Linked DNA regions of Homo sapiens. The protein of the gene in region 1 purifies or fractionates together with the protein of each later gene. This does not show direct contact. Each region holds a gene or a part of one and is shown in the gene's direction. Other genes may lie near its edges.

The links.
Region 2: the proteins of SNTB2 (region 1) and CTNNAL1 purify together in Homo sapiens (affinity purification with mass spectrometry; 2 studies listed by BioGRID and IntAct, with this or other methods). This does not show direct contact.
Region 3: the proteins of SNTB2 (region 1) and DTNA purify together in Homo sapiens (affinity purification with mass spectrometry; 2 studies listed by BioGRID and IntAct, with this or other methods). This does not show direct contact.

What each region holds. Positions count from the first base shown.
Region 1 is NC_000016.10:69,239,135-69,246,243, forward strand, and holds part of SNTB2 (beta-2-syntrophin), read left to right. Parts: intron 1-6,467; coding exon 6,468-6,681; intron 6,682-7,109. UniProt on the Homo sapiens protein: Adapter protein that binds to and probably organizes the subcellular localization of a variety of membrane proteins. May link various receptors to the actin cytoskeleton and the dystrophin glycoprotein complex.
Region 2 is NC_000009.12:109,010,473-109,018,218, reverse strand, and holds the start of CTNNAL1 (alpha-catulin), read left to right. Parts: upstream 1-4,719; 5' UTR 4,720-4,776; coding exon 4,777-4,917; intron 4,918-7,746. UniProt on the Homo sapiens protein: May modulate the Rho pathway signaling by providing a scaffold for the Lbc Rho guanine nucleotide exchange factor (ARHGEF1).
Region 3 is NC_000018.10:34,874,233-34,881,341, forward strand, and holds part of DTNA (dystrobrevin alpha), read left to right. Parts: intron 1-1,006; coding exon 1,007-1,166; intron 1,167-3,486; coding exon 3,487-3,576; intron 3,577-5,318; coding exon 5,319-5,487; intron 5,488-7,109. UniProt on the Homo sapiens protein: May be involved in the formation and stability of synapses as well as being involved in the clustering of nicotinic acetylcholine receptors.

The sequences.
Region 1 (7,109 bases):
CCAGATATTTGCATGGCCAACTCCCCCATCTCCTAAAGTCTTTGTTCAAACATCTTATTAATGGCTTACCCTAACTACCATATTTAAAATTTACAAACTGACACCCTGGGCAGCATTTCTGACCCCTTCCCTTGCTGTGTTTCATTTTCCCATTACACTTAACATCTTCCAATATACTGTATAATTTACTTATTTTATTTTGTAATTATCATACTGTACAATTGAATTTTTTCCCCTTAAGGTATACAGTTCTATGAATCTGGACACATACATAAATTCTTGTAACTGTCACCACAATCAGGATACAGGACCATTCCATGGTTTCAGAAAACTCTGTTGTGCTATCCCTTTATAATCATATCCCTTCTCACCCCTAACCCTTAGAAACCACTGAATTTATTTTTATTTATTTATTTATTTATTTATTTAGTCAAGGCAGGGTCTCGCTCTGTTGCCCAGGCTGGAGTGCAGTGGCGCAATCTCAGCTCACTGCAACCTCTGCCTCCTGGGTTCAAGCCTCCTGCCTCAGCCTCCTGAGTAGCTGGGCTTACAGGCGTGCACCACTATGCCTGGCTAATTTTTGTTTTTTTAGCAGAGGTGGGGTTTCACCATGTTGGCCAGGCTGGTCTTGAACTCCTAACCTCAAGTGATCTGCTCACTTTAGCCTCTCAAAGTGCTGGGATTACAGGCATGAGCCACGACGCCTGGCTAGAAACCACTGAATTTTTCATCATATATTTTTTTCTTTTCAATAATGGGGTCATACAACTTTTGAGACTGGTATAATGCCTTTCAGATTCATCCAAGTTACTGAGTTATAAATAGTTTGTTCCTTTTTATTTCTGAATAGTGTTCTATTCTATAGCTGTATCACAGTTTATCCATTCACTTCCATTGAAGGAAATTTGGGTTGTTTCCAGCTGTGGTACTTACGAATAGAGCTGCTAAGAACATTAGTGTACAGGCTTTTGTGTGAATGTAAGTTTTCATTTCTCTAGAATTTCATTAAATTATTAATTACATTATTATTTTTTGCATATTTTATTCACTGGCTAATAATTCTACATGCCTAAAACAGTTCCTGGTATATAGTAGGAGCTCAATAAATTAGTGAATTTGCTATGTTATTTTAGAATGAAGAGGAAGAGTGAAAGAGTCACTCTGAACTCATTCAAGGTTCATGTCACCAGACTCTAGACTGCAGTCTACTCAAACCCCAAATGGCCAGGAGACTTGAGCTGAAAGACACCTGCAAGTTGAGAATGTAAAAGGCTTTTTACTCAAAGCAAAGCAATTCCTTCCTCGTGTTTTTGGTGGTCATTTATCAGCCTCCTGACTTGAGAGAAGAGCTTGGGATGAGGTTGGAGAGAATCCTCCTGAGAGAATACTTTAACAGTGACTGTCAACATAACTCATTCCTGTGCAAAATGCACAGCCAGATATTCCACTCTGAGAATAATCCAGGAACAAACTTGCTTGCAAAAGCAGGGGAAATAATGTTGTGTGACTAACTTAGTTTCACTTAAACTCATAGTAAAGATCACCAGTTGGGGCATGGAAAAGGTAAGAGTTAGAGATAAAAAGGAACATAACGATTATATGAGAAGTTGATGTTTATAAAAGAGGTTGATCCATTTATCCAAATATGTGTGTTTGCAGCCGTAGGCTGTGTCTGCCCTATTATGTATCCTTTTTGGATAAGGTTTTTGTTTCGTTTCGTTTTGTTTATTTGTTTGTTTGTTTGAGATGGAGTTTTGCTCTTGTTGTCCAGGCTGGAGTGCAATAGCATGACCTTGGCTCACTGTAACCTCTGCCTCCCGGGTTCAAGCAGTTCTCCTGCCTCAGCCTCCTAAGTAGCTGGGATTACAGGTGCCCGCCACCACACCTGGCTAATTTTGTATTTTTAGTAGAGATGGACTTTCGCCATGTTGGCCAGGCTGGTCTTGAACTCCTGACCTCAAGTGATCCACTCGCCTTGGCCTCCCAAAGTGCTGGGATTACAGGTATGAGCCACCGTGCCCGGCCTGGATAAGCTTTTTTTTTTTTTTTTTTTTTTTTTTGTGATGGAGCCTCACTTTCTAGCCCAGGCTGGAGTGCAGTGGCACAATCTCAGCTCACTGCAACCTCTGCCACCTGGGTTCAAGCAATTCTCCTGCCTCAGCCTCCCCAGTAGCTGGGATTACAGGTGCCTGCCACCGCACCCGGCAAATTTTTATATTTTTTAGTAGAGATGGGGTTTCACCATCTTGGCCAGACTGGTCTTGAACTCCTGACCTCGTGATCCACCCACCTCGGCCTCCCAAAGTGCTGGGATTACAGGTGTGAGCCACCATGCTCAGCACCAGCCTAGATAAGCTTTAAAAAGCCAGGGTGGGCGTGGTGGCTCAAGCCTGTAATCCCAGCACTTTGGGAGACTCCGAGGTGGGCAGATCACTTGAGGTCAGGAGTTGGCAAGCAGTCTGGCCAACATGGTGAAACCCCGTCTCTACTAAAAAAAAAAAAGCCACTTAACAGGTGGGGTGCAGTGGCTCATACCTATAATCCCAGCCCTTTGGGAGGCCAAGGCGGGTGGATTGTTTGAGCTCACCAATTAGAGACCAGCCTGGGCAAATGGCAAAACCCTGTCTCTACTAAAAGTACAAAAATTAGGTGGGTATGGTGGTGTGCACCTGTAGTCTCAGCCACTCAGGAGGCTAAGATGGGAGGATGGTTTGAGCCCAGGAGGCGGAGGTTGCAGTGAGCTGAGATCATGCCACTGCACTTCAACCTGGGTGATAGAGCCAGACCTTGTCTCAAAAAAAAAAAAAAAAAAAAAAAAGAAGCCACTTGCATTCAGTTTAAAATCAGATGCTGCCTCATGCCCCAAACATGGAACTCTTCATAACCTTATTCATTAGAGCTTAGAATTCAGTAAGAATCAGTTGGATTTTGGATCCTATCCAGTGCATTATAGTTTTTGAAGCCTCAAGATTTCCGTTTACATGTCTTTCATGTTTAAAGTTTGAGCAACAGGCTGGGTGGTGGCTCATGCTTGTAATCCCAACGCTTTGAGAGGCTAAGGCGGGAGGGTTGCTTGAAGCCAGGAGTTTGAGATCAGCCTGGGCAAAATAGCAAGACCTTGTCTCTACAAAAAATTAAAAAGTTAGCCAGATGTGTCGGTGTGTGCCTATAGTTGCAGCTACTCAGGAGGCTGAGGCAGGATCACTTGAACCCAAGAATTTGAGGTTACAGTGAGCTATGATTGTGCCACTGCCCTGCAACCTGAGGGACAGAGTGAGACCCTGTCTCAAAAATAAAATTAAGATAGAGTTTGAACAAGGTCTCAGAATAAGTTTTCTTCATTTCTTAAATACGTTTTTAAAATAAATACTATGGACTTAACAAAAATTTTAAATATACAGAACAACATAAAGAAAAAAATGCAATCCTACACCTGTATATAAGCACTATTGATATTTTGATTAAGTTCCTTCCAGACATCTTTACAGGTACATGTGTGCAGTACATGTATGTGTTTTTGTCACTCTAAAGAAGAGAAGGGATCACAGTAATGCTTTTGGGGTGGGAGGAAGCCCACCTTCACGTTCAGTAAAAGGGATACGTGAGGCCGGGCATAGTGGCTCAAGCCTGTTATCCCAGCACTTTGGGAGGCCAAGGCGGGTGGATCACGAGGTCTGGAGATCGAGACCATCCTGGCTAGCACGGTGAAACCCCGTCTCTACTAAAAATACAAAAAATTAGCCGGGCGTGGTGGCGGGCGCCTGTAGTCCCAGTTACTGGGGAGGCTAAGGCAGGAGAATGGCGTGAACCCAGGAGGCAGAGTTTGCAGTGAGCTGAGATTGTGCCACTGCACTCCAGCCTGGGCGACAGAGTGAGACTGCATCTTAAAAAAAAAAAAAAAAAAAAAGGGATACATGAATGGAAGAAAGAAAATTAGCTTCAGCATCTGAACACTCAAAACAGTTTGTAAACATCAGTGTTTAATTAAATTATTTTGAGGATTATCTTCAACTATCAGGAAAAATGAAATGATTCTGAAATATGTTGTGGATTCTGAGTTGAACTGAAAGCTCCATGTGGGGGTGTAAAGGCTCTGCTTATCCAGCCACGTGTCCAGGTTAAGGCCTTAACATAGGACTGAAACAGAAGACTGTTAACTTTTTGCCATTCCCAAACATAGAAACAGATGTCCATCCACAGCTCTTCAGCCATTCTGGATGGCTAATTAGATGGGGGTATGGACTGCATTGCCATCAACTCAGATAAAATTCATTGCTCTTTTAATAAGGCAATACATAAATTGTATGTGTATGTCTGTTTTTGTTTTAGGATGTGTGTAGTAATCAGTTCAGTGATGCTACTGTGTGATTGAATGAACTGAGTAGATCGTTAAGGGTTCTTTTCTAACCACTATATTATTCAAGAATTCATTTAGAATGTCTTTAATTTCCTCCAGTTGGTAGCCCAATAGTGTACTGCCTTAAATGTTCAAAAAGCATGCCTCTGCCATTTGCAGTAACTGGAAACCTTAGGAATTTCTGCCAAAGTCCTTCAAAGCATAAAGCTGAAGTATGTATTGAAATGCTTGAGTCAGCTGCTCAAGGGTTATACTGACTGCACTCCTGCTGATTTTTCTAGGGTAAAAAAATCTCCTTGGTGACCTGAGGCAGCTACCCAGAAGCACGTGTATTATAACTATGCACAAAAAGCACAGAGATATACTACATCTAAATTCTAGCATTGGAATTGTTATATTTTTTATTATTATACTTAATTTCAGTAAATCTTTTTTAATAACGTATAAGAAAATAACTTTAACTCTTCTACTGATTACCATTAAAATTTTTTAACTCTTCTCTAACTTTCTAATTTAGGGAAGGAAAAAGAAAGGTACCTACTGTATTTATTGAATGTTTAGTATGTGCCTGAAATTTTTATTTGCTTAGTGTTACTCCCATTTTGTAGATGAGGACCTCAGAACAGTTAAGTGCGGTCACATAGCTTTGAATAGCAAGCACAGTTAGGATTTGAACAAGGTCTTCTTGATTCCAAAGGCATCTCTATGACCACATCATGCTGTAGAATGAGCTATCAACTATTAGGCCTATAAAAGACTATCAACCTTATTAAATAAAAAAACTAAGGTGCAGCACGGTAAGCATAATGTACCACCATATGTATGATCAGATATACACGCATGTGTATGTGTTTATTTTCATACATGCTTAGCATACCAGGCATCTCTTTGAATGGTTGCCTCTAGGAATGGAGACAGGGTAGCTAGAAATCTGGACTTTTATTATAAAACCTTTTATACCTCTTGAGTTTTGTTTTATGTGCATGTATTACCTATTCACAGGAGAAACTGTGTGTACCACTGTGCCCAGCCAGTTTGTCTAGTTTTTGAAACAAGAACACCATGCCTCGAGTGACAGTAATTGTAGTCATGACTGAAGTAAAACAAGTATTTTATGAGTTTTAAATTTGAACTTAAAAAAGCTTCCTATCTACTAAAAGCTTGATTTTCATTTGGGGCCACATTAATGGAAATAGAGTATTTTGAACAAGCAAGGGGGATCAGTTGAGTTGGCTTTGTGCTTATTAGATCATACCTTATCTTGAATATACTTTATTTTTGCACTTGATTTTAAGAACTGTAATGGCCTGTTTACATAGCTGTCTCCCCTGCAAGGCTGGGCATTCCTTGAGGGATAGAATCCATGGCTCATTTGCCCTTGTGTCTTTACTGGCTAGCCTAATTCCCAACACTTGGTAGGTAGCTAATAAAAGTTGATTGAGTTGAATGGAAATAGAAATACTTAGCTTAGTATGGGGAGGAGAGAGAAGAGAAAAATCTGTCTTCAGATAATTACAGAGTTCTCATGTAGAAGAGAGATTAAGTTTGTTCTATATGGCTTGAGAAGACAGGGAACCAGTGGGTAGAAGTATGGAGAAGTTTCTAAAGGTTGAATCATCTAAAGCCTAGATGGGTCTGTCTTAGAATCTATCTCCAGGGGATTCATGGCTCTTTAACTTACTTTTTTCCCCCATTTTTTGTTTGTTTGTTTGTTTGTTTGTTTTTGAGGCAGAGTCTTGCTCTGTCGCCCAGGCTGGAGTGCAGTGGCACAATCTCACTGCAGCCACCGCCTCCCGGGTTCAAGCAATTCTCCTGCCTCAGCTTCCTGAGTAGTTGGGACTACAGGCGCATGCCACCACGCTCACCTAATTTTTTGTATTTTTGGTAGAGATGGGGTTTCACTACGTTGACCAGGCTGGCCTTGAACTCCTGACCTCAAGTGATCCACCCGCCTCGGCCTCCCAAAGTGCTGGGATTACAGGAGTGAGCCACCGCGCCCAGCTCTTTCCTCCACTTTGTTATAGATATAGCATGTATGTGAATACTTTAGTTATCATTTATTATAGGAAGCAAAATTACTAACCTTCTTCTTTGATTTTTTTGTTCATAGTCAAGTTCATCCGAGAAGTAACACCATATATCAAGAAGCCATCATTAGTATCAGATCTGCCGTGGGAAGGTGCAGCCCCCCAGTCACCAAGCTTTAGTGGCAGTGAGGACTCTGGTTCGCCAAAACACCAGAACAGCACCAAGGACAGGAAGATCATCCCTCTCAAAATGTGCTTTGCTGCTAGAAACCTAAGCATGCCGGATCTGGAAAACAGGTGAGGTGTACCTAACAAGAACATCATACCTACAGCTTTACAAACTTAAGGACATGTTGCAGTATTATATGACTCTGTTAACTCAGTTATACAGAGGAAAACATCTGTCTGAGGTGAGAGATGCATTTTTGGGGTTCCACATTTTAAGTTATTCTACATATATACATGTATATGTGTAGAAAAAATTTTGAACAGACACACAAGAAACTGTTAATGGCTTTACCTCTAGGGTGTCAAATAAGACTAAAGGGGTGAAAGAAAGAGGGGGCATCTTTTCTTCCTTTTATGTCTTTCTGTAATGTTGTTATTACTTTTTTCACTATGAATATGTATTACTTTATAATTGAAAGAAGTCCATTCAGTATGATATTGGCTGTGGGTTTGTCATAGATAGCTCTTATTATTTTGAAATACATCCCATCAATACC
Region 2 (7,746 bases), on another chromosome or scaffold:
TAGCACATATTCATAAGAGACAAATATATACAATGAGTTACTATACATATACAAAGTGATTTTAGCTGTATAAAGTGATATTGCAAAAAACTACAGCTAATGTTTCTTGCTGGGTAATTATTAGCATAAATATCAGGTTCTTAGAGGTCTTTAAGAGAATACTTTAGAGCTACCAAAATTAGCAGCAGTGATGTAATATCACCCTGAAATACCAGGAGCAGAGGTGCCCCAGAGTGCTTCACAGCTATGATCAGGAAACTTGACCTGCCCCATTGCTACAGCAACGGCATAAGGACTAGGAAGGTCCACTAGCTGGGGAGGTCTTGGAACCCTCCGAGCCAGAAAGAAGCATTCCAGCATGATTCCTCAGATGCAATGAGGAAGGTTTACAGAATTTTCACAGGGCAACAGAGATCAAGTGGTATGAAAAGGTAGGAGTTTTAAGCTCAAGTCTCAAAGATAACCTACCTTTACATTCTCAGTCAGAATTTGACCCAGAAAGAGGAAGTTTCTTCAGGAACAGACCGTACGTTGATGAAGTAGAAGTCATTTCAGTAAAAACGGAGTACAGAACTTGGTCATAATATCTTGCATTTTATAGATTTATTAAAGATTAGTTTCAAGTTCACATTCGCTATTCAGTTGTAAACCGAATGGATGGGAGGGGAGAAAATACAAGCTCTCCACACAGGTATGCTCCTCTCTTTTCTGAGAGAGAAGGCATGGGATTTTCAGCATAAATTCCATGTTATGTGAGTGCTGTTTGAGTTCTGAAGTTCCTATCAATATCTGTTCCTGCAAGTGATCTCTGTAAGACCACCTTACATGCTGGTCTTAGTTATTGTTAAAATTGCAAGGTTTCTTCACACCCTCTTTGATAAGAAGTGTTTAGCTGGCAGAGCTTTCCCTTGACTTCTGAGTCTAGTGTGGGTTGGCCCATGACAGTGGGAAGAAATCCAACATGTTACATGGAGACCTTGTATGTAAACAAACTCTGTAGCCTTTGAAAGTGGAACTGCTTTTTACAGTTAAAGGGCTGCTAAATGGCTTGCAGATGAGATCTTCTGGCTCACCTTGATCTTCACATGAACCCATTGTGACCTATCTGGATTTCCTAGGACCTGTAGTTTCCATTTGGGTTATATTAGTGCCTCAGGAATGTGTCACTACTGGTCAAGCAATACTCAGAAATTCAGGCTGTGAGGGGTTAGATTAGAGGAAAGTAATTTAGGTGAGCTATCCAGAGCTTTCAACCTCAGGGTTTATAGGAAAAAAAAACAAAATACAAAAACCCTTAGGACTTCTCATACTCTAGCCCTGACCTTGCAGTCTCCTCTGAGGGGCCTCCTAAGACCCTTAAAATAATATTACAATAGGACTTTGAGTGTGCATTTCACAGTGGAAATAGCCTCTGGCTAGCATTACTTCCAAATGCTAGTTCCAGCTAAAAACAAGTACTTTTTATTAGTTTCTTGTCTTTCAACATTCTGCCATCAAAATATATTCATTTTATTAACTTACCGATTATTGGGAACCTGCAAAAAAAAAAAAAAAAAAAAACACACATGCTGTCTGCAGCCACTGTTTGGTTATTTTTGATAGTTTAAGAGAATTATAAATCAAGTTGTTCTGTCTACTAGAGTCAGAAATTCTGTGCTAGAATGGGACTTCTAAAATTAGGTGGTCCTGTCACTTTCTAGAGAAAGACCCAAATTCATAGGTTTAAGTGGCTTGTCTGACATACACATACAGCCAGTTAGTAACAGAATTCAGAATAGAATAGAGTTCTTTTTTTTCTGTCAGTCCGTTGTTCTACTTCTCTTTCCTTTTCTTCATGGTTGAGCAGCTTTTGGCAAAATGTGTTCCATATAGCAGTAGTTCCAAGAGATGTTAATAGATGTAAGAAAAAAAGTGTGTGTGTGTTGGGGGTGGGGGATTGCATGGTCAATTAAAATGAAGGAATGCTGAGTTTGTTTCCTTACTGTAGGACTTCTAAGAGTTTTGAACATGCTATTACACATTGTGAATTTATAAAAGGGGACAAACACTGTTTGACCTTAGACTGCACTCCCCTTCTTTATTCCTCAGAGCATCTCAAAGGACTACAGGGTCCTTTGAGAAACATGGCCCTTGATCAAGTTTACAACTCTTTGAGAAGACATCCCTAATGGAAATACTGAATGGCAGATCTATTACTGTGGTACCATGTAGTGTGTAATAAATCTTGAAGTCCAGAAAGCAAGTATATTTGCTGTTTAGAGCTATACTTAAGGTATAGAGATTCTTTTCCACCTGTGGTGTGTAAAATCAGTATTGTGTTTAATTTTGCAGGTTTTTCAAGGATCAACTAATGTGCAAATACAGTGGTGATATATTGATATTACATTTTAATAATGCTTTTGTATGGCACTTTATAGTTTTCAGACACCTTTTGTAACAGCCCTGTGAGACAGACAATATTATCCTTATTGTACAGATGGGGGGGCTCTGGAGGCTCTGAAAAGTTTTTGGTGATATTCCCCTAAGTTTATACCACAAAATGATGGAGCCAGAATTTAGTTGCAGAACTTCTGACTCCAAGTCCAGAGTTCTTTACTAGACATCTGGTTTCTTACTAGCTTTTTGCTAGCTTTTTATTTTACAGTGAAAAGTATGGAAGCAAATCCTGATAATTTTGGCTTATTATCAAATATCATTTATTTTTTATTGCAGAGACCCAGCAGATGTAACTCTCATTGTAGCCATCCCAAAGAAAACCCTTCTTTGCCCTTTGCAGTGCCACTTATTTAGGTAACTGAAGTGTATTTCCAGTACAATTTGATTTTGAACTAAGATTTGATATAGAGTTGTAATTGCTTACATAACTCTTTGAAAATGTATCATCCCTGGGTTCTCAGGTGAAGGAGGCAATTCAAAAGTAAAAAAGAATATTCGAATACAATAAATACCCTCTGTTCTCACACAAATGCTGTTTCTTAGCTAACTTGCTTTGACAACCTACTGATGTAACTTCTTTATTAATGTGAAATATTTATATTTTGAAATAAAATTACTAGTGTTGAATGAATCATGTGGTAAACTTAATCTCCTGTGTGTTGAAAAACTTGATCTTTTGTGAAGCCAAAGTTTCATGAATCCATCCGTCTCTTAGGCCTTCTGTTATGCCATTTCCTCCGGCACCATTGTGTACACTGAATTCTTAGGAGATACTGTCAACTTCGTAAGGGAAGGTGTGTCCAGGAAGTGGACACTGGGCGCCTTAAAGAGGTCAAGGGCCCTCAGTGCACAGGGGAAGGTGGCCTTGTGATAGGTAAGGAAGTGGTGAGATGGTTGGCTGAGAAGAATTGGAAGAAAAAGTTGGATTGAGGACCTGTCCTTTTTGAATGAAGAAAAAGAAGCTGAAGCTTGGCTATCTTCAATACCAAAGACAGCTGTGCAGCACTGGTAGATTGATGAAGCTGAAGCTACAGGTTGAAGCACTGTGAAGCGCCTTTCAACGGTGCTTGGGAAAGAGCTTTCTTATGCCTCAGGTTGATGTACCCAGCTCATCAATCTGGTGTTATGGAAGAAGAAATGATCCAGGCCAAGGTGTCCGGGTGGACTGGCCAGCCTCAGATTCTTTTTTACTCTGACAGGTTCTCACTGGCAGATATGGTAGTTGACAAAACATTTTTTCATGCTTCTCAGTCTGTTGCTTAAGTCTGGAATTCCTTCACGGCGTGCATACTGCTGACAACCTCCTTTTGGCCTTGCTCCTGGAGACCTTAGAATAGGAGTCTTCAGCTCCCCGCCCCCATCGTGGGGCTCTGTGCGAGCTCAGAGTTGTGCTTACAGAACTGATTCTTACCCTTCCCCTCAAGTGAGTTGTCAGAAATACACACTTGGTGTTTTCATGCAATGAACAGTTATGAAGAAACTGCTCTGTGCCTGGCACTAGGAAAAAACTTCGAAAAATAGTTTTAAGAAGTAGTGTTGAACAGTAGATGAGGCTTTTTCATGTTTCTTTTAAATTTCTTTTGAATAAGTCTAAACAGTAGTGTGAAAGATATACTGACTTCCTGCCGAATACCCAGATACTCCATTAATGATTGCATTATCAAATGTTTCCCCTTCAATCCAGCTCAAAGTGTTTGTGAGAAATACATGGTGAAAGAATGAGCAGGGTGGAGTGGAAATTGGACCTTCCGGAGAAGCCCCAGGAAGACATTACCACTGGAATTCCCGTCCCAGGGGAAAGGCCCCTCCCAACAGACTTGATTCTGGTTTTGGTCTACCAGTTTCAACCCCAGCACAGCTTCCAGAAGTCTTTGCGGGAATTCAGAGCTGATTTAGGACGAGTCACCTATCGAGAGGACGGGAAGCTTTGCTGGGGACGCTTGTCTGTCCAAGTAAGAGGAGGCCATGTGGCTGTGTGACAGATGTGTTTTGTTTCTCCTCGCCACCCTGGCGAGAAGGTGCCTGGAACCCATGGAAGGGGTCTGAGAAGAGATAAGGGCGGGGCCATGTGGGGGCGGGACCCGGCTTAGGGGGTGGGGTTGCAGGGAGCCCACACCAGGCTGGACTGCGCGGGCGGGGCAGAGGCCGGGGGTGGGCGGGGACATACGGTGACGGGCGTCGGGGACGCAGGGTTGGCGGCGGAGCCCTGGGGGGGCGGGCCCCTGGGGGCGGGGTCTCGGTTGGCGCGAGTGTCCTGTCGCCGCCGCCTCGGGCGGGTGGGCTGACTGGCGGCAGGCTCGCCGCGGCGCGGAGTCCCGGCTGCGGGATAGACCGAGGGCCATGGCCGCCTCTCCCGGACCCGCCGGCGTTGGCGGCGCCGGAGCAGTCTACGGCTCCGGCTCTTCGGGCTTCGCCCTCGACTCGGGACTGGAGATCAAAACTCGCTCGGTGGAGCAGACGCTACTCCCGCTGGTTTCTCAGGTAAAGTGGCGCCTGGCGCGGCCCCTCTTCTCCTTCCCGCCGCGGCCCGCGATGGCGGCCGCCGCTCGCACGACCGGACGGGAGGCAGCCGCTGCCCCACTTTCCGCGCCGGCACTGCGGCGTTCTTGTCGGACCGCCTGTGTGGGGCTCCGGGACGGGCCTCGGCCCGGGCGGCGAGAGACTGGATAATCCAAACTCCGGCGGCAGGGTTGAGTGGACTCGGCAGCAGGGGAGGCTGCGGGGCGGGGGTGCCGGCCTGGGCCTTTGCCCCCAGTACCTGCCTCGGGTCTGCGGCTCCCGGGTGCCCCCGGCCGGGCGATGCCCCCTCCGCGGGGCGAGTGGTTGAGCCCAGCTCCCGAGGCAGAGAGGACCCCCGCGGGGCCCCTCGCTGGTACTTAGGGCCCTCCACGATAACCGACTTTGTCACCAGTTCGCAGCCTGGTCCCGAGCCCGGCTCCTCCGCCTGGGGTATTCCTCCCGGCCTCCCCGCCCAGCGTGCGCTCCCTGATCCTTTGTCCCTCCCCGCCGTAGGTCAGTTCGCTGGCCTCCCATTCATCCCGGCCACCCTACCCCTTCCCCTGAACCTGCTGCTGCTCACTTCTGCCCGCTTCTGTCCGGCCTCGTGGAAGAGTGACGTGGAGACTGTATGACAGTTAATCCAGATGCACACCGTTTTGCCAAGTCCCGTTTGGGATGTGTGCGTTACTGTATTTGCCAATCAGCTAACCGACGCCCTGAGTTTTAGGAAAGTTTTTGTTTCTCTGAGCTGGGTTATATGCAGCTTCAGGGCTAGAATTCCTCACTTAGGTCTGTGGTAAGATGCCAAGCACTGTGGGGAGTGAATTCTGTGCCTTCGGGAGCGCGTTGGCGATGTGTGACTCACATCTAGGTTGTAACCACTTCGTGACTCATACTAGGATTACCAAGATTTTAGAGGTAGAAGAAATCTTAAAGATTATCTGACTAAAAATTCTTTCTTTAGCATCCTTGACACCTGGCCACCAGTACCCTGCTTAAACATGTTCAGTGAAGGGGAGCCTGTAGCTGTTGCATAGAATTCTAAATGCTATTATCTCTTCTCCTGCCCAGCCCTGCGCATATTTGAAAACAGCAGTTACACATGTCCCTGGATTCCTGTTATGCTGGTTAAATAAACATCCCTATTTTCTTCACCTTCGCATGGCTAACGGAGCAGTGATGAATATATCTGACACTCTCCTTCCCTTTTCCTGTGTCTCATTGAGGCTCTGACCAGTGGGAAGGGGCACTGGGATCCCTCAGTAATGTCAGACCCTCCGCTCCTCGCCTATCTCCACTAGCACAACACAACCAAAACGAGAAACACTGGAGCAGTTTTAAGAGGCAGAGAGATAAGAGAGTGATGGAGTTCAAGTTGATAGTATTTTATCCATTTTTTAAATAACACCTATGTAATGCTTACTATGTGGTAGGCCAGGTTCTAAGCACTTTGTAAATATTAACTCATTAATTCTCATAACAATCATGTGAAGTTGGTATATATTCTCGTGGTATGGGAGAGGAAACTGAGGAATACTGAGGTTAAATAATTTGTTGTTAGGGCTTTCAATAAGTGCCAAACTGGGATTTGAATCCAGGTACCCTGGCTCCAGAAGGTTCTCTTTGCTACACTATGCTGTGTCCTCTCTAGAGATTAGAAGCAGTAATGAGATCTAGAGAAAAAGATGGTACATAGTGGAAAAACAAGCTAGAAAGTCATAATCTGGAGAAATGGCAACTTTTCACAGTATCCACTGCTAAAAATGTATCAGTCTTACAGCTCTGCATTGTGTAACTCTGGGGTAAAAGAAGCCAGAGAAGGGTAGGAGAGCAGAGGAAGAAAAGTATAAATCACTGCTGAGAGTTAGAGGTCAATGCCAAAGGGGAAGAATGCCTGCCTTTTTTTTTTTTTCTTTTTCCAGTTAAAGCCTTGTTCAGGGTCACAGCTGAGGTTTTGCATCCCACACATTGTGTATCTACAGCTACATCTCTACCACAACACCATAACTGATATTCCTCATAATTGACTGTCCTTAACAAGAAAAAGTTAAAATCAAGAAGTGTATTAAGCATGGCCAGAATACTCGGTTAACAAAGCAGGGAAGTACAATTTAGAATGATTTTAAAGTTTCAGTGTTAGGAGATTAAAACAGCAGTTCTCCAGAAAACTCATATGTCCACAAGTCTCATTTTCTGAGAATGCTGTATTATTACCCAACTCATGTTTCACCATCTCATCCACAAGGATATTTTAAGCATTTTAAGCAAGGATTTATTGTGTGCTTATTTGTTGCTGTTTTTTGAGGGGCTTATATTCTAGTTGGTAGATAGGTCATGTATAGAACAGCACATGCAAAGTGTCAAATGAACATCATCAATGGTACATACTCTAAAAGCTCAGAGAAGGCATGGATGAGTCAGCAGTGATGTCATGGAGGAGGCAGGGTTTTGAGGTAAACAAGTAGGACTGGCACTATACGGTTTAAAGTAGACAGTTTCTATTCTGGTATCATCTAGCTTCTTCTGACTCTCCAAGTGAAAAGTCCTGGGTTACTGGCCTTATTCTAAGAATGCAAGATTTTATCAATATTAGAAAAATGTGTATAGTTTTTTTTGCATTCACAGATTATAAAAGATGTATTTTCCTAACAATGATGCAGAAAAAGCATTCAACTAAATTCAGCTTCTAATAATGATAAGAAGCACTTAGGGAACTAGTGTTAGGAAAAAGTGTCCTTAACCTGATAGAGTATCTACAGAAAACTTTTACTTAACATCATAGCAACAGTCAAATTTAAAATAAACATTTCC
Region 3 (7,109 bases), on another chromosome or scaffold:
GCCTTGCTGGAGAAGAATTCTCACTCTAGCAACCACAGCAAACAGACTGGGATGGAATTGATGTGAACACCTAATCTGTTGTGTATGCACTCAAGGGTCTCCTTGCATTTTCTTACGCATGTGGCTGACTTCTTTTGTCAACTAATTATTAAAACAGGGAGAATATTTCCAAGGCACCTCATTTAGAGACAAATCCTTAAGATTCAAAGTGTGACAGTCTCAGAATAGTTTCATGCCAAAAACTGTAGTGCAAAGATAAGTTCCTTCAGTTGTTTTCTACTTTTTTCTTTACTTGTCTTTAAATCCTACTATTCTTATTGTCCTGCTAGAATACTGCTTTTTCATAGGAGAAGAGAAGGACATTTCCTGCAGGAAATAATACCAAAAAATTAGAAAACAAGGTTTCTTCTTCTTCTTCTTCCCCATTGGAATCCCTGAGTTACTAATTTGACAAAATCAGCTTTTACTATAAAATAGGGATAAAACAATTTACACTTCATTTGATTCTTAATTTGAGACTTAATATGCACAATATTGTATGACATGATTTAAACTCTTATCCTCTAAAGATAATGCTAGTACAGTCAGGTTGAAAATTCAGAAAGCATCCATTGCAAATAGTCTTCTAGTTTGTATTTTAAACTTTCTCCTTAATGTCTTCTTAGTCCTCGGAGACCTTCCTTCAAGGAGAAAGTATCCACACCTTGTAATTATCTGCATTTAACAGTACCTTCATTTTATGGGCACATGTCCCATATACTGTAGAGCAATGCTGTACTAATAGTTTTAGCTTTCAATATTTAACCCAAACTTCAGATTACATACAATAAGGTCCTAAATTATCTGCACCTGCAAATTAGCTTTAGGATTACCAACACAATTACCTAGGATTTCCTCCTGCTTTGAAATTTCATTGTCACTGTTTTCAACAATCAACTGAGGCATTGGGGATGACATATGACATTTTCTTGGGAAAGCAAATTAATGACCTGCATTGTCTCTCCAGACTCAGGGGGCAGGCTCTCCCCGCTCCTCCCCCAGCCACACCATCAGCAGGCCAATTCCCATGCCCATCCGGTCAGCGTCAGCCTGCTCCACCCCGACGCACACGCCGCAGGACTCCCTCACAGGAGTAGGGGGAGATGTACAAGAGGCATTTGCACAAAGTAAGTGGCTTTATTTTTTGTTGTGGTCTGCTTTTATGTGGCAAATAGGTCACCAAGGTCTATTGAGTGGTCAAGAGTTGTCAGAACCACATGTGACTATTGTAGGGTCTTTCATGGCTGGTGTCAGAGCCTGGCCTGCCAGCCATTTTGGGAACTCCCTACACCAATTTGTTCTCACTTCACGATTTTACCTTCCTTTGGCTTTTGTTGCCCTGCCTTATTTTTTAGTAAGTCTTTGTTCATCAAAAGACAGGAAATCTTTTCACCAATACCCCCAGAAAACTTCATAAATGTAATCTATTTTTTTTAATTCTTAGAGATTTTCTTATCTCATATTGTCTTTTCTTTATATTAAAGTCAAGACTGAGATAAGTAATCACAGCTCTTTAGCAATGAGGTAACCAAGAAGGACATTTAGTCATTTGACAGATTCCCTGTTCTGATGCCCCGAAGAGTTGAATCATTGCCTCTGTAAGGCAGGGCTACAGGGTTAAGCCTCTGCAGTTAGAGGAGTACAAAGAGGGATGGGGATGCCAGCCAGCACTTTCCCATGACAGGGAGAGTAACTTTATTAATTTAGAAATATTTTTAACACTTTTTAAAACCTCTTCTTACTATCACTTTTTAAATTTATAGAGAATAATAATAAAAAAATCATTCTGTAGACCTTCACCGGCAGCTTTCATTCCCAGAAGTAACCACTATTAACAGTTTGATCCTTCCCAAAGTTTTGCTTTTGTGTAAATAGATATGTTTAAGGATGTGATTATAGACACATACTCTTTTTTTCACACAAATAGGATCATGCATTGCATTTTGGGGTCTGCAATTTGCATTTTCTTTAAATTAGCAATATATCATTAACATTCTTCGAAGTCTTCACATAGAGATCTAAGGAAAAGAGAGACATGTTTGAATATGGGTTTTAAGGCAAAAGAGATCATAAACAAAGTTAAAAGACAGAAAACAGTCTTGAGGAAACCATTTCCAGTATATGTGTCAATCAAGTTTCATAATTTCAGTTATACAAAAATCATGTAGAGATCAGAAAGAATAGACACCACCAAAACAAAAACAGGTGAAATATACGAATAGACAGAAGAACAAAGAGAAATTGCCAATAAATATATGAAAAGATGTTCAACCTCTAATTACAGAAATATAAATTTTAATAAGTATCACTTTTTGCCTAGAAGATTAAAAAAATGTTTTGAAACATCATAATATCCAGGGATAGCAAAAGTGCGAGGAAAAAGGTACTCTCGTCCATGTAGAGGGGTGATAAAATCTTAACACACTTCAATGAGAGAGAATGATGAACTCTCTACTCTGAGGGAAAAGGAAGGATCTATATTAGAACTTTTTCTTCTAGGCACTGAATATAACTCAAGAGTTTTTAAAAATGTAATTCACAAAATAACTTTTAATTTTTAGAAAGAAAATATCCCTTCTCTTAATCATATTTTAAAGAAATGTACTATATTTTAAATCAATTTGTGATTTCCATTATAATTAATGTTTTTACTTAACTACTCTGATTTTTTTAATTTAAACATTTATTATTTTATTTAGTTAGTATTACTTTCTGAAAAATGACGGAATGAAATTCCATTAACCCTTAGTGTGCCTGAAACAAAATAATAATCTTTCTCTGCCATAAAGAAACATAGTCTAAGTTCCAATTTATAGTACCAGACATGCATCTGCCCATGTCTTGGCAGAAGAAACAAGAATCCTCACCCCTTTCTCACGCTCTGGGGGCATTCAGTGCATGTGGGTTTCCCATTCCCAAGTGGTACTTACACTGGCAGGAAGAGCTCCAAGAGCCCTGATAGGAGACAGCGCATGTCCTAGTAGAGACCAGAATCTAAAGGGCTCAGCCACCAGGTAAGGGCAAGAAAAATAATAGCAGCTAGGAAGGCGCAGCTCTCCTGGAAAACCTGATTTTTCATCTGTGTGGATTATTCTTAAGAAGGGTGACCACACGCACTGGTTTACCTGGAACCATCCCAGTTTTGCCAGGTCAGCCAGCCTTATTCATACTGCTCTCTTTCACCTTCAAAATTGTCCCCATATGGACAAATAATATATGAAACTCCATCATTAGCCATGTCTTCTTACTGCAGGACCCACTGCCCTAAGCAGTGTTTTGTTGTTGTTGTTGTTCTTGTTTCAGGAAATGAACTAAAGCACTTCTGAAAAGGAGAAGTCTTAGAAGTTTTCTTGCTTTAGGTTATTAATGGGAAGGATAAATAAACAACATAAAAATTTAGGATAGAAGGAAGCTTTGGTTTTTTAAATTATTTCTTCTTCCCTGAAGGTTCAAGAAGAAACTTAAGGAATGACTTGCTAGTGGCTGCAGATTCCATCACTAACACTATGTCCTCTCTTGTGAAAGAGCTGAATTCTGGTGAGTTCCTGATTCCCTCTCATTTGTCTGCTCATCATGGAGGGATCCATAAGTGCTAGGGGTCTCTCTTAGAGATCTGCTTATTGTCTAATATCAAAAGATTCTTTAAAGCTCTATGTGATATTTTGTTGGTCTATTCAGATTTGAGGGGTTTTTTTTTTGTTTGTTTGTTTTTGGTTTTTTGAGACAGGGTGTCTCTGTGTTGCCCGGCTGAAGTACAGTGGCACCATCATAGCTCACTGGTATGTCAAACACTTGGGCTCAAGTGATCCCCCTACCTCAGCCTCCCTAGTAGCTGAGACTACAGGCACATGCCAGCACGCCTGGCTAATTTTTTGTTGTTGTTTTCATAGAGACAGAGTCTTTGCTATGTTGCCTAGGCTGGTCTCAAACTCCTGGCCTCAAGTGATCCTCCTGCCTCGGCCTCCCAAAGTGTGTGAGCCACTATGCCTGGCCTATTCAGATTTTTTAAGTAATGTTTATATTTTGCTTATTAAAAGACTATTAACACATACTCAATGTAGAAAGTTTGAAAAAGGCAGAGAAGAACAACGAAAAATATTCAAACTGACCTATAATTCTGGAATCCAAAGACAGCCACTGTTAACATCTATGGTGACCTAAAACAACATGATGCTAAGGTTATTTTATAGGGTCAAGTGTATTATTTATCTTTTTTTGAGATGGGGTCTTGCCTTTTTTCCCCAGGCTGGTCTTGAACTCCTGGGCTCAAACAGTCCTCCTGCTTCAGCCTCCCGAAGTGCTGGGATTCCCAGCCCTTATCTATTTAGGTTTCATTAATTTGGAATGCCTGATCATTTAAATTTGAATTTCAAACTGAAATTTACCTTTGCAATGTCTCTGAAGATAGATCTGCCCAGAAATAAATAGCATAAAATTTAAGGAGACTTTTTATCCTTTTAATACTACAAAGAGTGTTCAAAACTTTAGCAGTATGAATATGCAAATAAATATCTTACCAGTCACTAATACATCTCCATCTATTCCTTAAGGCCGACCTACCAAGAGATTTGTCTGGCAAGACTATGGTCTTACAGCTGAGATTGCAACTATAAGAAATAAAACTTCAGTTTTAAAAAAATCCTGGACTTCGCTTTCTTAAAGCCTCTCAATTGAAAATTGTTGCTGCTAATTTAGATTAAGATTACCAAACGGAATAAAAAGATAGTAGTTAATACATCATGATTAATGGCAGGTAACCACTGCCCTAGCAAATGATGAGTACAAAGTTATTCTTGGTGTAGAAGTCTTAAGTACTGTTAGTTTATACTCATAATTCTTTAAAGTATTAAGTGATAGGGTTCACTTAATATTTTAAGTTCATATTTTAAGCATTTTAGGTGAATATTTTATGGTTAGGATTAGGTTTTAACTCATAGTTCTTAAATTAGTGTAATATTAAGCAAAAGTAACAATTTTAGTTAAGTCTCTTACAGAAAGGAAAAAGTAGAAGTCTTAAAGAGTTAAGTCAGTTACTAAGATGGCAAAAATTCCTCATAACATTTCTGAGATTTTAAAAATGCTGTATACCAAATGATTTTATAGTAATTCATGTCAATATCAATTCTTATTTTGAAACAATAAAAATGTATTTGATTAAAATATGATAACTGGTTAACATTTTACACAGCACAGGTTGATTTGTGAAGCCTACTCCTTTATTTGCAGGTCATAAAAAAATCTAACGAGTCATTCTTTATTTCTTCAATTGTATCTGCTAGAGGTTGGGAGTGAAACAGAGAGTAATGTGGATTCTGAATTTGCACGGACTCAGTTTGAGGATCTTGTTCCCTCACCAACCTCTGAAAAGGCTTTTCTAGCGCAAATCCATGCCCGAAAACCTGGGTACATTCACAGTGGAGCTACCACAAGTACCATGCGTGGCGACATGTGAGTATCTTCCGCTTGGAAGCATTTTCTCAGTAACAAAACAATCTGTAGGAGACAATAAGAAAGTAAAAGCATAATTGTTTAGGGTTTTTTTAACCTTCAGAAGGGGTGACATAGTTTTCTGTTCTGCCAGAGATATAGAAGGGTGCTACATTTAAATTCGGCATTGTAATATTTCCCCTCTTACAATTTCCAGAGAGTTATCAATAACCTAAACCAACCAGTGCCTATCAAGAGCCTGCCTTGCCCAAGGCACATTGCTAGTGCTATACAAAATAGTATTAAAAAACTGCTGCCACCCTTTTAGGACTCACAGACTAGTTCAGGAGATAAATCATCCTATCTTCTGAACTTATTGTATTTGCACTTAGAGGATACCATGACATTGGAGAGGTCTCTGTCCAGAATTGGTGTAAACAACATCACATAAGTATTTGGAATTGAAATAAGTACATGTATAAAATCTCATTATAAAGAAATCCAGTTTGGTTGACTTGTTGAATTTGTATGAATCTGACCCTCCAAAGACTTATTTGCAAAAGTTTTCACCCAGTTCTGGAGCTTGTCAGAAACCAGCAGCATCAGTAACGTCCCCACTAGACTTTCTGTGACCCTGGATCAGCTCAAATTAGTCAACAGAGAAAACCAAAGCTGAGAAACAAAGGCAAAGCTGGGACAGAGCTGCAGAGCCCAACTTGGGAGAAAAAGGAGAAAAACAAAAGAAATGAAGAAAGTGGCCCATTAAATGACCATGGTTCATGGAGTTATGGGAAATGTGGGCAAAGGCTGACCCAAAAGCTGGGGGAGGGAGTTTCTGAATGCTAAAAATACTTCAGAAGGGTGATGTTGCTTAATATGAAAAGTACTTCAGACTAGTCTATAAAAATAAACTGGCCATTTTAAAGACTCAGAGAAGAAACTAAACAGAGGCCTTTCTGGTGTTTGGCTCTCCATCCAAGCAGTGAATAAACAATCAGTAATCATGGAGAATTATCAAGAGGTGTGGTCTGAGAGTCAGCTATGAAGCAGCAGAGAGTAGGATCAAAACAAAACCATTATCATGGGACTTAACATGGCAGTACGCTGCTGCTTAATATAGTTTGCTTTCTTGTCCTTTCTTCTGTATTCTAGAATTGTTGGATTTGTTATTCAAAATGGTGAATTAGTTGTCATCTGTTTTGTCTGGTAAATTCATATCTATTTGACTTTTTATTATTAAGCATTTATATGGCAGTTAGCTAGAATTTCCTTGTCCTAATTCTAAAATCCAAGACTATTGAGGCCACCCTAATCTGCTAGCCCTGGTATGCTGAGTAGCAGTACCAGCTACCAACATGTGACTCAGGAGTTAGGGAAGGAAAGTTAACAGAGTCCTGGGCAGACCCATTTAGCCTGGCCCCAAACCTCCAAAAATAACCAGAACATGTTGTACAGCTATAAATAAACGCAAACAACGACATTTAAGTTCCAACCTAGAAACTTCTTCTTGACCACTTATTTCATTTTAGGGAATAATTTAATATTTCTATTGTCTAAACATGTACTTGTGTTTTACCCTGAGACTCTTTTAGTCCTATGATTTAGGTAGTGAGTTTATGTCCAGCCCCATGAAAAGCTTTGCA